Regions from separate parts of the Homo sapiens genome. Here region 2 is linked to region 1. The links come from fine-mapping of genetic effects on gene expression. A gene starts in region 1. The other region holds a variant in brackets. All regions are shown on one strand. Distances are from middle to middle.

What was found. PIP is the estimated chance that this variant, and not a neighbour inherited with it, causes the effect.
Region 2: its variant is the best candidate, but not a certain one, in a credible set for the expression of ZNF613 in whole blood (INTERVAL, PIP 0.55).

What each region holds. Positions count from the first base shown.
Region 1 is chr19:51,926,160-51,929,070 of GRCh38, forward strand. ZNF613 (zinc finger protein 613) reads left to right here and starts at 1,313. Exons shown (of 6, transcript NM_001031721.4): 1 at 1,313-1,381. RefSeq lists enhancers at 333-1,096, 952-1,251.
Region 2 is chr19:51,951,795-51,954,705 of GRCh38, forward strand. The region is part of intron 1 of ZNF350-AS1 (ZNF350 antisense RNA 1); the gene reads left to right. Among named protein-coding and RNA genes, the nearest start is that of ZNF350-AS1, 4.1 kb to the left of the region's middle. The variant T/C (reference allele first, on the strand shown) is at 1,357.

The DNA.
Region 1 (2,911 bases):
CTCCTAAGGAGTCATATAGTTCTGTAAAGCTTTTCACTCTTCACAGATTTGATATTTTAAGTAACACGGTATGTTTCTGAAATGGAGTTTGCATTTTGGGGCATTTTCTATAGATGTATCATGAAGGACACGTGAAAACTCTGTTATAAATATAAACACTCCACTGCATGCAGGAATTTCCTTCTCATTCTTCCAATGGAATTGTCTTAATTTAGGTTGGATCAGAATTAGAATTTACGTTATGATGACTATGTAAATAATATTTATAGGTCAGTCAGGTAGTATCCTATGATTACTTTTCTTGCACAACTTTTTTTTTTCTTTTTTCTTTTTTTCCTCATGAAGGGGTTGCCAAGGCTGTGTAGTGCAGTGGCTATTGATAGGTGCGATCATAGCTCACTGCAGCCTGGAACTCCTGGGCTCAAGCGATCTTCCTGCCTTGGTCTCCCCAGTAGCTGGGACTACACGTGTGCGCCATCGCGCCCGGGCTTGCACAACTTTTCATTCTCCCAGAGTCGCCTTATTTATTCCTTCCAGAATTTTAGGCACTTGGTTCTCCGAAAGCCCCGACGTTAAGATTGACTCCACCTACAGCAGAGGGAAGGCCCTTCTTCTCTCTTAAGGAAAATTCCCGCCTCCCGCATTGGATTCCTTTTCCGGTTGGCTGGTGGCTGCTCTCTTTACCTGCACTGGGCGGTGACCGTGTCCCTCAAATGTAAATGAGGTTCCAGGGGTCGCTGTTTTTTCACTTTCCGTTGACGGGGTGAACAATATCCTCGTACCTCGATTGCCTCTCCACACCCTTTTGGTCCTCAAAAATCTTCCTCTTGTCCTCCACATGTAGCTAGATGCGTTTTCGCGGTATATGACTCAGGGTGCGATTGCTCTTTTTCCTCTGTGGAGAAAGCGTTTTCACTTGTACGGACACCTAAGTGTTAAGATGGCCGCGCCCATTGTGTCATTCCCGTCATTCTTTGTGCAAAGCGGATGACTTTTCTCCCCAGCCCGCTAAGGTGCACGTAGCCATACCATGTTTGTCTTGGCTAAGCTCGACCCTCTGAAAATAAATGAAACTTGGGCGCAGGATTTAGGTGCCAAAATATGGAGTTCTTCACCGTCCCGCGCTATCCCTGAATACTTGGGCAGAAAAGGTCCACTTTACCTTCCGTACGTGCAGGATTCAAAGATGGCTGCCTCCAGTATCCGTGACGAGAGGACGCGAACTTACTACCTCCCAGTCGTCCGTGCTCCGTACACCTGCAACTTCAGACCTTCCTCGGCCGCCGTAGGCCGGCTTGGAGGCTGGGGGAGGGCCCAGAAGTGGAATAATTCAGGAAAGTGCAGGTTCTGGGAAGTCTCGGTGGGTTCCCCGCAAAATCAGGTCTGTGTGTGGGTCTGTCTGTCAGGATGAGGGGAGGAGGGTGTCTGTGGGCGTCCGTTTAGTGCGGAGCCGTGGAGTTTGTGGGGGAAGCGGGAGCAAGTGGGAGTCGGGGTATTGGGGTTGGGGCGTCTCCGGAGTCAGCCCTGAGGGATCCCAGTGGTCGGTGGTCAGAGTCTGTCCAGAGCAACACTTGGAAGTCCGTGATCAGGGTTTGGTGCCTTTGCGGGTCACTCTGTAGGGCTCGGTGATTGAGGACTGGAGTGAGGAGTGGTTTTTGTCAAGGAAAACTGTGTCTGCTTCGGATTCGGGGTTTTATTTTTTATTTTTGAGACAGGGTCTCGCTCTGTCACACAGGCTTGAGTGCAGTGGCGCAATCGTGGCTCACTGCAGCCTCCATCTCCCGGGGCTCAGGTGATTTTCCCACCTCAGCTTTCCCGAGTAGCTGGGACTACAGGTGAGCGCCACCACGCTATCTATCTATCTATCTATCTATCTAATCTGTCTAATCTAATCTATCTATCTATCTATCTATCTATCTAATTTATCTATCTAATCTATCTGTTTATTGCAGAGACGGGGGTCTCACTATGTTGCCCAGGCTGGTCTCCAACTCCTGGCCTCAAACGATCCTCTCACCTTGGCCTCCCAAAGTGCTGGGATTACGGGCGTGAGCCTTCGCTCCAGGCTGTAATCAGGATTTAATATGCGACTCAGTGAGGAGGAGCCCGGGTTCATGTGAACCTAGGTGTGTGGTCCAGGTTTTTGGATTAATCTAAGGGGGTGTGACCATGTTAGGGAGGTCTAGATGTGACAGTCGTGGAGAAGCTTGTGAAGGCTGAAGCCTTGGCAGCCAGGGCATCCTGATTGGTGTGTGTGTTCAGGTCCAACGGTACATTCCCTCTCAGTCCCTTTTAAGTTTCTCTGCAAGGACTGGTTTACAAATCTCATTTGACTTCTCACATCTCTCCTTTCTCTCATCCTGGTAAATAGGAAAGCTTTGGGGAAGATCAAAGATTAATCAAATCTAAAATGGTAAGGTGGCCTGGCGCGGTGGCTCACGCCTATATTCCCAGCATTTGGGAGGCCAAAGTGGGCGAATTGCTCGAGCCTAGAAGTTGGAGATCAGCCTGAACAACATAGCCTGTCTCTCCAAAAAATACAAATATTAACTGGGTGTGGTAACACACGCCTGTAGTCTCAGCTACTCGGGAGGCTGAGGTGGGACGATCACGTGACCCCGGGAGTTCTAGGCTGCAGTGAACTATGATTGAGCACTGCACTCCAGCCTGGGCAACAGAGTGAGACCCTGCCTCAAAAAAAAAAAAAAAAGAAAAGAAAAGGAGAAAAGAAAAAGGAAAAAACAAAACGAAGAAAATGATAAGGTTTCTATTAAAGATTTTCGTTCTTCTTCCTCAGGTTTACTGTGTGAATGTGTGTATACACACACGTAAATATTTTCTTTCAGGTTCTGACACAAGTAAAACATCTCTCTTATCCCAAAATGTGTTCCCCAGTAATGACTTTTGATAA
Region 2 (2,911 bases), 26 kb after region 1:
ATTTATTCAAAAAGACTGTTAACATCATTTCTGTGGGGAAATCCAGCCAGTTTAAAAAATGATCAGCAAAGATAGGGAATATGGTAGAAATGTAAAGGAAATAGAGGTTAAAGTGATATATAGAGCATAGGGAATGATGGCATGATATGTAAAAGGCATGTCTAAATTTTGAATAAACATAATGAAGGGCAGAGAATGAAGGGATTAAATGGAAAATTTGTCAGGCCATGAGGGAGAATGCCAAAAGATTTGGTCCGAAGCCAACCATATGAAAGCCAATGTTAGAAGGTGTCTGTAGGGGAAGTAGTAGAATAGAAATGTGGATAAGTGGGGTAATCATAGCAACATTAACTTTTATTGCCAGGCCGAGTGGATTTTGTGTTAGTAATTGAGGTAGCATGGTAGAGGGTAGGTTTCTTTTGTATTTTTCTAGCCTATGGGTAGTCTTATCTTTCACCCAGTGACAGCAATGATGCAATAATAAGGAACAGCCAGAGTTTCATATATAAATAAATATATAAATTATATATATATATCTTTTGAGATGGAATCTTGCTCTTTCACCCAGGCTAGAGTGCAATGGTGTGATCTCAGCTCACTGCAACCTCCACCTCCTGGGTTCAAGCAATTCTCCCACCCCAGCCTCCCTAGTAGCTGGGATTACAGGCGCCCACCACCATGCCCAGCTAATTTTTTGTATTTTTAGTAGAGATGGGGCTTCACCATGTTGGCCAGGTTGGTCTCGAACTCCAGACCTCAGGTGATCCACCCGCCTCAGCCTCCTAAAGTGCTGGGATTACAGGCGTGAACCACCACCTTACATTCTGGCTGGGGAAAACAAAATAAAAACACAAGGAAACTAAAAAATGAGGTAGCTGCAAATTATGAGAGAAAACACACACTGCCTATATCCAATCAGGGAAATAAGCAGACACACTTGTTTTAAACAAATATCTTGGGAGAGGCAAGTCAGAATGTCAGATTTCGACTTCAACGTATCTGTGACACTCTTAGATGGTCATCCTGTTTTTAAAATGCATCCCTTAGGGAGGTGGGGGGGTCAGCCCCCCGCCCGGCCAGCCGCCCCGTCCGGGAGATGAGGGGCGCCTCTGCCCAGCCGCCCCTACTGGGAAGTGAGGAGCCCCTCTGCCCGGCCAGCCGCCCCATCCGGGAGGGAGGTGGGGGGGTCAGCCCCCCGCCCGGCCAGCCGCCCCGTCCGGGAGGGAGGTGGGGGGGTCAGCCCCCCGCCCGGCCAGCCGCCCCGTCCGGGAGGTGAGGGGCGCCTCTGCCTGGCCGCCCCTACTGGGAAGTGAGGAGCCCCTCTGCCCGGCCACCACCCCGTCTGGGAGGTGTACC[T/C]AACAGCTCATTGAGAACGGGCCATGATGACAATGGCGGTTTTGTGGAATAGAAAGGGGGGAAAGGTGGGGAAAAGATTGAGAAATCGGATGGTTGCGGTGTCTGTGTAGAAAGAGGTAGACATGGGAGACTTTTCATTTTGCTCTGTACTAAGAAAAATTCTTATCCTGTTGATCTGTGACCTTACCCCCAACCCTGTGCTCTCTGAAACATGTGCTGTGTCCACTCAGGGTTAAATGGATTAAGGGCGGTGCAAGATGTGCTTTGTTGAACAGATGCTTGAAGGCAGCATGCTCGTTAAGAGTCATCACCACTCCCTAATCTCAAGTACCCAGGGACACAAACACTGCAGAAGGCCGCAGGGTCCTCTGCCTAGGAAAACCAGAGACCTTTGTTCACTTGTTTATCTGCTGACCTTCCCTCCACTATTGTCCTATGACCCTGCCAAATCCCCCTCTGCGAGAAACACCCAAGAATGAACAATAAAAAAAAATAAAAATAAAAATAAAATGCATCCCTTTTCTTCATTCTGTATCATCAAACTAATTTTCCCAAAGCACCAATCTCACATTTAGAGAGAAACTTATTCTCAGTGTCCAACCTTTAGCCTCACTGTGGGCACATTCTCCTGTGCTTCTAAAGAAAGAGGGAAAGATGAGAAACAATGATCATTTGGAAAGTTTGCAACAGGCCAATGAACCATGTAGACCTCTCCAGAAGCAGATGTGCTTCTGAATAGGATAAGATGTGTTACTGAATGGGTGCTACTGCTGGTGCCCACATGTGTTGTCTGTCACCTTCAGTCACATTTGGCATGTAGTACCTACACAGATGTCAGATCTGAATTTTTCCCATTTCATTGTCCCTAATACACTGATCCCTTGTCATGTAACTAATAGCATCTTCTATAATTCTACAATTATGTCTTGGTTGGCATCACAAAAGGGGCCTAAGGGACCACCTTATTCCTTTTAAACCAAGACTCATGCCACCTTTACATATTTCTTAGAAAGGAGGATATATAATGGAGGAAGACAAGGCTCACCGATGAGTTCAAAACAAGGGGACGAAGAAAGTGAGGAATTAAGGTTTGCTCCTAAGTATTTTGCTTGAGTCAAGAGACTTTTTTTTTGAAAGATATATTTAACATTTTACATTATGTATATAATAGTCAAAAAGTCTTTTATCTCAGTCAATGAATATTTTATTTCAGTGAAAGGGTCTTATATATCGGGGACATCTGGCCTGGGATCTAGGAAACATGGAAGGAAATTAATCTGTAATAAAGTGTTAGTAATTAAGAGGTCAAGCTCTATGACTCAGTCTCCAAAGTCAACTTTCCTCAAGTCCTAATAACTTTTAGACGCCCCCAATATACAGACTATTTTCTTTTAGGCTCAACTTTCTTTACATAAGACATGTGAATCCACACGTCTATGCCTTCTACATTTTAGTGCAAGGATTAGTAAAAAGTAACTAATAGAGCGCTTTCCAGTTTGGTTAAAGGGAGTCCTTTAACCAAATATCATTTTAGATATCATTTCCAGTAGAAAAA